Regions from separate parts of the Homo sapiens genome. Here region 2 is linked to region 1. Evidence: fine-mapped expression QTL. A gene starts in region 1. The other region holds a variant in brackets. All regions are shown on one strand. Distances are between the middles of the regions. Region 1 holds the start of RGS18 (regulator of G protein signaling 18). Region 2 has its middle 32 kb from the start of RGS18.

The links. PIP is the estimated chance that this variant, and not a neighbour inherited with it, causes the effect. A credible set is the group of variants that fine-mapping cannot tell apart.
Region 2: its variant is the best candidate, but not a certain one, in a credible set for the expression of RGS18 in whole blood (TOPMed, PIP 0.75).

Annotation. Positions count from the first base shown.
Region 1 is chr1:192,156,342-192,161,743 of GRCh38, reverse strand. RGS18 (regulator of G protein signaling 18) reads right to left here and starts at 3,282. Exons shown (of 5, transcript NM_130782.3): 1 at 2,988-3,282; 2 at 2,423-2,524; 3 at 1,305-1,366. The coding sequence starts at 3,106.
Region 2 is chr1:192,187,808-192,193,209 of GRCh38, reverse strand. No RefSeq gene overlaps it. Among named protein-coding and RNA genes, the nearest start is that of RGS18, 32 kb to the right of the region's middle. The variant C/T (reference allele first, on the strand shown) is at 2,480.

The DNA of each region.
Region 1 (5,402 bases):
GACACCTTAAAATTGTGAAAGACACGGGCAACGCTACAAGGAGTAGTTAGAGTAGTCTGGCTAACCTCATCTTGGAAGGGTCTGGGAAGAGCTGGGAAATGATTGTATTTCAAAGACTAAGGTGAGAAACTGGACAAGTTTAAAGTGCAAAAAAAAAAAGCTGTGGGCTTGAGGTGGATGTTTGGTAATGATAAAGCATTGCTTTTTTTGCAGACTCTGACAAGTTCAGGGTGGAGAATAATAAATCTGTGATTACCTAGCTGCATCACCTGCTCAGTTGAGTCTTTCTATCTGAAAGAAAGCATAAAATGAATACAGACAACAAAGTTCACTCACTTGCTACCTTATGTAAATTGACCCTAAAGAGTGGCAATCCAGGGAGCCTGCCTCCTAAGCCATGCTATATTATAACAGTGTTCCAGAGTCAAATGAGGCCTTGATGCTTGTCCTCACCCTCCATCTCACAGACAAAGCTCCACCTTAAATACATACTCGATTCTCAACATTTCTACAAAATTCTGCTTTAAAAATAGACAATTGATATGAAGTACAGAATGAAGAATTTATAAATTTTTTTTAAAACTGTGTTTATGGAGCGGGGCGCAGTGGTTCACGCCTGTAATCCCAGCACTTTGGGAGGCTGAGACGGGTGGATCACCAGGTCAGCAGATTGAGACCATCCTGGCTAACACGGTGAAACCCTGTCTCTACTAAAAATACAAAAAAATTAGCCGGGCGTGGTGGCGGGAGCCTGTAGTCCCAGCTACTCGGGAGGCTGAGGCAGGAGAATGGCCTGAACGGAGGCGGAGCTTGCAGTGAGCCGAGATGGCGCCACTGCACTCCAGCCTGGGCGACAAAGCGAGACTCCGTCTCAAAACAAAAAACAAAAACAAACAAACAAAAAAAACTGTGTTTATGTGGGTTTCCTGTATGTCCATCGAAAGAATTACTTGATATTTTTAATCCTTGAACAATGAAACTAACATGAATAGTTCGTTAATCATGAATTTGATAAAACCGAAGATTTCATTCAAAAATCGGAAAAATTTAAAAACTGAAACTAGCTACAGTATAAATAACTAATATTTCATCCACAGTAGGTAATTCTAAACAAAATGAGAACTTTTAAAAAAATTTCCATTATTTGACTTTTCTATTACTTAGTTCTGTTGATCAGAAAATTGAATTACTGAAAATTAACAATCAGACAAAAATTTTGTGACCTATTGTTTCGGATAATTACATGCATAGTTTGTGTAATTTTCCATTAAGCACACAAAGTATTTGGTGAAAGTACCACTAACCTCTATGGGAAAGCAGTTTGTCAAATGATTCACCCCATTTCACTGCCTCTTCAGGGGAGACTCTGTACAAGAAACAAAATGTTTTATAATGGAGTGTGCAGAAAGTCTGTTTATGAATCTGTTCTAACATATGCTATTTTACTGCTCTTTTCAATTATATTTCACAGTTTCTCCTTTGATTATAATATAATGAAAATTGCATTTACATTAGAAACTTTGAAAACATTGTTCAATTTTCTTTTGGAATTTGTCTGTTGAATAATGTGTTGAAATAACATTATTTTTTTTCTCATGGATATGTGAGTTTTATTTTTTAATTAAAAATTAATCCTTTTTTAGGTTAAAGGGCACAGATAACAAATATAAAGAAATCAGGTCAACTATCTGTTTAAATTCAGCAAGTAGAAAAAAACTAAACTCACAGTATCTTTCAGTTAAAAAAAAATTATACTGCAATTTCCTTGAAGCTGTAACCACACTAGGCTGCAAATTTTTTTTTTAAACGGATACAGGAAGTTTGACTAATAAAGTTTCAAAGGGATAAGAAATATAAGATATTTTAATAGAAAAAATATTCTAGAGATGTTGGTAATGTGGAGAATTGAATATATTTTCTCGGATCTTTTTTATTATACTCTAATTTGGAAGAATTTGTATGAAACTAGTATATAAGGTTTTTGCATTTTCTTTTTGAATTAAATAAATGCTAAGTATTAAAAGACATTATTTGTGCTTTACTTGCTATAATGCGTGTGTTTTTTCAAACTACTGAAGAAAGAGATGAATATCTCTCTGCTATGACAATATTGCATTGTGAAAACTCTTAAATTAATGAGCATTTTATCAGGTTATAAGGAGTAAAACATGTCATTTAAAACTGACAGGTATATAATTTTAAAAGAGCAGCTTTAAGTGTTCACGTGATTATTCAATTCAAGCGATTTAATTCAAGTGATTTAATTTTATGAAATATTTCTAGTCTCTTCAAATGAAATTTCTAACTTTCCTTATATTGCTGTGTAATTTTCAATAAATCAGAAATCCCTAACTGCATTTTTCTTAAATCTTTAATGATAGAATCAGCAAAATCTTCCTCAAAATACTGAAAATTTATTCACCTTGTTTCTTTGGCCAAGTGCCCAGATCTACTGGAGCGGGTGTCTTCATGAAACTCAGGTTTCTGCACAAGAAGACTTAGTCTATTTCTTTTTTCCTTAGCTCTGTAATAAAAAGGCCTTCATGTCAGGACAATTTAGATGACAGTTAAAATCTCTCCTGCTGACTACCAGAAAATTTTGTAGTTGGTAAAAACCCACGCCCACCCATACCCACACACTCATGAATCCCATTTAAATATTGTATTTGTGGAGGAATTAGGGTAACATACGAAAATGTTTCTCCTTTTGCTCACCGACAATCAAGTATTTGAGATTATATTTCAATAAAGATTGCACTAGTTCCTCTATGTGGCTAACATTATTACACTTTTTTTTTAATGAGAACACTTTAGATTTCAGTTTGTTGTTTAAACCTAAGAAATAAAAAGGTGTTTTTTTTTCCCAAATTATAGCAATACAAACAATATATTTTCCACCCAATAGTTCAAAAACAAGAGGTAATGAATCTTCAACCTCAATTATGCTTTTAAAAGTATAAGGCTGACTTAAAATTGTACAATTTTACCTGATTTTGGCTTCTTTGCTTGTTTCTTCTTTTCCTGAACCATGTATTAACTTGAAAAAAGTTTTTTCTTTTGATTCACACATATTTATTTGAGAAAAGAAAAGCAATGTTGTTTCCATCTTCTCTCTAAAATGAAGAGATGTCTAATTTATTACATCCTTCCCTAGTTCATTTATTAATACTATTCCATACATATACATAGTAGAATAAAAAGTTATCACAACTCTTACAGTAATGTTTACAAAAAAGAAGTCAAGAGCTGCGTTTCTTTCTGTCTCTGCAGAAATGCAGAACTGAGGAAATGAAGTACAATTTGGTCCTAAGTTGTTTAGGGAAATGATACCACAAATTTGCAAAATGACTCTTGGTCTCTAAGATAAAGACTAGTCTTACCACAGTGCAACTTCTCGTTCAAGTTTGCGCAACCAGAATGATGCTTTAATAGACTCAAATAACACTGTCATTTCCCACAGGAACTTTTCAAAAAGTTTTTAAATGTGTGGACTGTGTGTTAAAATGTGTTATGGCAAAGTATTATATCAAACATTAGGAGATATTTTCTCCAGTTCTTAAAAAAGTATTTTTCTTATTGTTATTACATGAGTTAAGTAAATCACATTTAACTGACATAAGATTATGTAATGTTAATTACATTGGCTTAACATATTGTAACAAAATAAGACAATAGATCAGAATTTTATGGTTAAAAAAAGATTGTAGAAAGCATTTAATTTAACAGTTTTGGGCTGGGCACAGTAACTCATGCCTGTAATCTGGAGGCTAAGGTGGGCAGATTACCTGAGCTCAGGAGTTCAAGACCAGCCTGGGCAACATGGTGAGACCCCATCTCTACTAAAAATACAAAAAATTACCCAGGCACGGTGGTGTGCACCTACAGTCCCAGCTACTCAGGAGGCAGAGCCAGGAGAATCCCTTGAACCTGGGAGTCGGAGGTTGCAGTGAGCTGAGATCATGCCGGCTACTTCACTTCAGCCTGGGCAACGGAGCAAGACTCTGTCTCAAATAAATAAATAAAGTTTTAAGCACATATCTATAGAATGATTTTAGACATTTTTGAAATTTTTATCAGTCTGTGATGAAATGGAAAAAAATATGAAAAGTTTTTTTTCTTAAAGCTTTATTTTAATTCCTTTGATATAAAGGACTTGCTATTTTGAATTTGCTCTCCTGACTCTTTTGTTGTTAAAATGTTCTTTATAATGTAAAAATGTTCTTTATAATGACATGGATTAAGTAGAGATGGTAGTTTTTATATTTTAATGCCTTTATTAAAAAAAATGTTGACAACTCCAATTGGTTTAGCCTCCACTTCTTTCACTGTTTTATAGAATACAAAAGTCTTACAAATGCAGTTCTAGTCCATAATTCAAATTTTATTGAAAAATAAACCAAAGTTCACAGGCATTAGGTAATTTAATCCTACAAAGTTTCAGAGACAGGCCAGTGGAAAATCTGGAATTATCAGAGCCTTTGATCACCTACTATGTGCTTTAGTCCTTCCAAGAATCTTTGATCTCCAGTAGTGAATGCTTTAATCTAAAATGGTATATATTGAAAGCTGAGTTATACAAACCTAAAAGAAAATTTTATTTTCAGTCTTTTTGAATTATTTTTTTACCAAGACAATTTATCAGGGATACCAGCTAAAAGCTCAAAACATTTATCTATATGAAATTAAAGACTTTCTAGTATATATTTATACATATACCCCCTGATTCCATGACTTGTACTTTGAACATATTTTAAATCTCTCACCTTGGCTGAGAATTGAAAAATATTATGTATGATGGCATTTTGCATTGAGCTTCTGCTGGAAATGGATACTGATAATGCAGATTATGCTTCCACCCTGCTGTCCCCTAGTAATGATTAGTATCCACTGTGTTTATATCAGTTTAATCCTATGAAGGTGAATGAGCACAAGAGAAAATCATAGGAGCATGGACATCATCCAGTCACTAGGACTATAACTTAACTGTTAACTCAGAGAAGTTAAAGACATAAAATCAATATATTATTTTTCATAAGATATGTTAAATTTATGTGTGAAGTGTGCTATACACAATGCTGATAGAACCGTGGAAAAAGAAATTGTGAAAATACGGGCACAAGTTGCCGGGCACGGTGGCTCATACCTGTAATCCCAGCACTTTGGGAGGCTGAGGCAGGTGGATCATGAGGTCAGAAGTTCAAGACCAGCCTGGCCAAGATGGTGAAACCCCATCTCTACTAAAAATACAAAAATTATCCAGGCGTGGAGGCAGGTGCCTGTAATCCCAGCTACTGGGGAGGCTGAGGCAGAGAATTGCTTCAACCCGGGAGTCAGAGGTTGCAGTGAGCCGAGATCATGCCACTGCACTCCAGCCTGGGCGACAGAGTAAGACTCCATCCCCC
Region 2 (5,402 bases), 31 kb before region 1:
GCACTTTATTTTCAAAACTCTAAAATCATATTACATGGACATTACCTCCTTTATCTAAACATTATGATTCAATTTTCATATTAAAGTGTTTTCAATGTAACATTATGCATGAAATCAAAAATAGAACTTTGGTGTTTATTCTTACACCAAAGAATAGTTTTTTTTTAATAAGCCAGATTTAAAGAGAATATATTTATAAAGAGAGAGTCTATGGATTTTAGAATAATCTCAATAAACAATTAGTTTAGGAAGATGAAGCCTGAGAGATAAAATAACCAAATCCGTAAAATCACGAGTATGAACACAGACTTGTTGGCTGAATCCAAAGTAAAACAAAGACCTAATTAGTTCTTTAAGAAATTTCAGTTTTAAAAGAAGTAAAATAATAATAATGTCTGAGGTAGTAAAACTGTTAAGCTTGTTAACTTGAGGAGCTGTCAAATACAAAATATAAACATCTAATAATGGTTTAATAAAGTCTATGATGTCAGTTACAGAAAATGTATTAAAACACGTACAAAATTCTTTCTTATTTGAACACATTTTCATAGGGATTATGACTTACATTCAAATACTGTGCCAATTCTCTGGTTCTCCCAAAACCTCCCATCCCTACCCCACCCCCACTGTAGTATTTCTGTTAAAGTTTAAATTTCCTTCTCTCTAATTTGTTGTTTTGCTATATTTTTATAATTCTTTTTTTATGTAGCACAATTTGAATTTTTAAAAAGAATGTTTATAAACACCTGTAAAAGTGTCATCATAATTTTAAATTTGATATCAACCTTTTTTTGTTGTTGTTGATGTCAAGTCTGGTCTAAATCATTACTTACCTTTTGAAGGAACTTGATCAAACAAACCGTTCTGTATCTTTGCCAAAGAGTCAGCCATATAATGTGGAAGGGAAAAATTAACCTCTGTGCTCAAACTTACTATATAATTTAAATGTTCACCTTTTATACTATTGATTTTAACCAGTGTTAGTAATTCTAGTATTTATTTTATAGATGAATTAGAATCTTGGAAACAAGCAAATACTAGATACTTTTCAATATTTCAGTATATGTAGCATATATAAAACATTAAAGAGAAGCAATGAGGCATTTTATAAAACAAAAAAATAGATTAGCAGTGCCCATTGTTATAAAATTATTTAACCTAATATCTAAAAATGAAGGTGGCTTATAGTTATAAATGAACATAACAGACATATGAATACATATCTTTGGCTTTTAAAGCCAAAGACAGAAATAACTTGGTATTTAATAATTGAGTATTTATTCAATTAAATATGCAATTTTAACATAAAATGTATTATTAAGTATCTAAGTTCTTATAAAACTCTGAAAGTCTGAAATTATATGCACAGGACATATGTGTACATATATGACTAAAATTTTAATATGGTTATGTGCCATGCATTATATCTTACATTCAAATACTATCCTAATAAATATAATTAATTTACTTCATTTCTTTCATGAAATAAAATTCTCTAAATGTTCACTCTCCCAAAGATTAGCATTCAGTTAAATGCTAGTGTTCTTAGTGTTTTATAAATAAAGTTTAAAAAAGTTAATTTTAATATAGCTTGCATTTCTTTCAACAATTACGTATGTGTATGTTTACGAACACATACAAGCATAACATTAGCAAAAGTAAATTTCAAGGAAATAATGTAGTTTCATGTTGAGTTTTGATTAATATTTAATTTCCATTAAAGTAAATGAGATAACTCTTGTGGCAGGATAATGAACATATCTAACATTTTGTTTTATTAGAAGAGAATCTTGATACTTTGTAGGTACTAATAAATTAATGGTTGATGAGAGGAATACATAAATGATATTGGTTGATATCTGAGTGACATTTTTACTCAAATTCTTTCTTTATTAATGTTGTAAATTAGTCTAGAAATGACTTCCTTATTCTGTTCTACAAAGTGTGAAGGTTTGTTGGGACATGAACTCTAATTTCCTTCCAGCACTAGTGTTTAAAGATGAAATAAAATTTTTAAAATCTGCAGAGTGTCTTATTCAGCTCCCAGTAATGAAGTAGATTTCCCATAACAGAACAGTGTCATGCTTTTAATAGACAATTCAAATATTGCAAACCTTTTATTATTCAAAATATATCACAATGTGCATTATTTGTAACGAAATACTGCGTTTTAGAATGATTACTACATCAATATTGTCTGTCTGTTTTTGGACTCTATTTTTTCTCATTCTTTATCTTCATATTTTTTATAATCCAATTTTTTAATATACTCTGTCTAGGATTTACCTCAAATATATAATCATTTTTCCATTTTGAGATTTGAATATATTTTATTCTTTACTTCAATCTAGTTCTAGTTCATGTTAATACCATACAGTACATTTTAAAAATTAAGATAAGTATTTTTTCACACATTAATACTATCTTTAAAACTTGATTTTTGTAATTAATATAATTCTATGAAAATTGATATTCATAT[C/T]CATAATCCATTGTTTCAATGAAAAAAATTTGTAGATTTTTAAAATATTAGAAGAATATAAATGTTAAAATGTTTATTTCTAGAATGGAAAATTAGACTTCTTTTTTATTCAACTTATGCTCCTTACATTTTTTTATTTGTCTTTAAGTGATATGTACAATTAATCATGTTAACTCTTCAATATGTACACTGTATAACCCTTTATAAAAACCATGGTATGATTTTAGAGTAGAGATGGTGGTTCAGAATATTATATTTTCACTTTTCTGTAATCTTTTTTCCAGAATATATACATTGTTTTTATTACCAATATATATGTCCTTGAAATTAAAGGATTTCCCCCATGTAACCTTTTTTGTTATGTTAAAGATCATTTAGACATGTGTCAATCATTTGTTGAAAAATTAGCTTTGAAATATTATAATATGCTATAATAATTACTTAACTCTGTCTCTAGAGATGTGTTTGCTGACTCAGCCATTCAAGAAAATGGGACTTTCTATCTAAAATACTCTTAAGTTTCTAAAGGCCTCAGAGACTCTATGAAAAATGAGAAAAATGAACGTGAAATGCTGTTTTTCCTCAGAAAGATAATGGCAGTTGCTGGAGTGAACTCCATCAATAATTTGCAATATTCAGTGATCTAAATAATGCTTATTTTTACGGGATTTTAGAAGTACTACAACTACTATTTTATTGATTTCTCCAATTACTATTATCAGTTATTTATAATCCCAGTTTTCTCATAAAAGTCTTCTGAATGATTTAAGTGTTGTCTTATTTCATCACTCCAAACACTTCCCTAAAGACTTTCTTCAATGAGGAAGAAATACTGATATTCCACAGCAGAGAAAATACACTCTTACCCAATTGACTGAGAAATGATTATGATAATTATATATTCCCTTTCAAAAATCAAACTCTGAGTGTGTGTGCACGCGCGCACACACTCCTGCGTGTGTAACACGCTGAAAACTTTTTATTTACAAATTTTTGTCAAAGTATCTGCCTGGAGAAAAGATAAAACAGACAAAAAACAACAGAAGAAAATATATGGTGAGGTGATTACTAAAGAAAAAATATGTAATGGGGCCAAACTGCAAGATTAGTGTTCCCTTCATGATCATGCAAACTTTTTAGATAATGTGTTTATTATATTTTTCAATAGAAGTGTTTAAGAATAATACAAATAAATAGGATTTCATGGGTTGAATCATGATTTTCCAGTGAACTTATTTAGTTCTCTCAGTTATCATACGTGTATGATCTTTTGGTTGATACTCATTTATCAGTATCTCTTAACATTCTTTCACAATTCTATCAAAAATTTACTTCCAAAGCCTCTATGTTAAATAATTTTCTATTAATGTAACTTGAATACATTTCTGGGAGCTTGCATTCTAATGTGAGTGATGCTCATTTATGAGATCAATTCCGGTTTCTAGAGATTGAGATTTTAAAGCAGATTTCAGTATGAATATAGCAATTTAATACCTAATCCTATATTATAAAATATACTCAGACATATTGTGAAGGCACAGCAACATGACTCTGCTGTTTAGCTACGTTGCATGAAATTGTCTTGCCATTTTTTAGACACAAGGAAGTCAAGATATATTATATATCAATGTTTCACATGTCATAGTGAAATGACTGATTTTTGTGTTTGCCTACATAGGAACACCGTTCATTTAAATACTACAGTGATAGCCTTTACATTATTTTATTTGTCTTTGTATCACTACTGTTCCATATAGTGACTGGGACAGAGGTGAAGCATGGCAAACATTTGTTGAACTACAGGAGTCTATGATTAAATAACGATAAATGAAGTATAAGATATTCCAAACTATGGATTATTAAATACATTTATTCCTGCTATCATTGATACTGATTTGATCTCACTTGGATTCATGTTTCAATATTTCAGTTTCTTTACATGTAACAACAGTTCCATGTTGAAAAAATGATTGTTGGGTTTTACATGTTGATGGCAATCTTTCCAAATGTTTTTTATTCACTTTCTTGCTCTAGTAAATTGCATCCAATAAAAAGAATTTTGACACTTTTTAGTGGATCAACATTTAACAATGATTCAGTCTTCATTTTTCCCACAATTTTATGTTTTTTACAGATAGATAACACAATAAAAAATAATAAGACTGTAGACAAACTATTTAAAATTTAATACTGTTGTTTTAGCAAATGTCTGACGTTTAAAATAGTTGCTTTGCTTATTACTTCTAAAAGGTTCATTTCTACTCTATAAAATTTAGTAGGTAAGATTCCAGGTAAATGTATATGTTTACTATTAAATAATTATGTCTAAAAACACAGCTGAATCTGATTTTTAAAAAAATTTTCCAAATGTAATATTTTACTACCTGTGCTGCTAAATTTGTATTGTTTCCCAAGTGATTTAATTTTGTAAATGTTTCTTAAAACTTGTGTTTTTTCATCTTCAAAGGACCCTTCTATAATTGGTTGATTTATAGAGCAAAACCAATAAAATGACCAAAAAATTCAAACCCATAATAAAATGTATTTATATATACATATACTTTCAGTTCCTCTTTTGTTTTATAAAAGATGCACAAAGATATGCAAGTTAGTGAATCTTTTGTATTGTCCTTAAATAAATGAGGAAATTAGTTACTTAACTCCTAGCTTCAAAAGATAAATGGTAATCTGCACGATTGGTCGTAGAAGGATTTGTTATTTGGGATACATACGAAGAAAAGTTTAAAACATGGCTTTCAGCTGCGTATTGCAGAATGCAAGCTTTATCAGACAATATACTATGAAGAGAGTTTTTCTTTCTCTCTCTTTCCCTGTCACTCCCACTGTTAAATTCACTTTTGAATGCTCAGAAGCTAGCAGTAGCAATCAAATGAAAGTGTTCAATAAATACTTGTTGATTTAT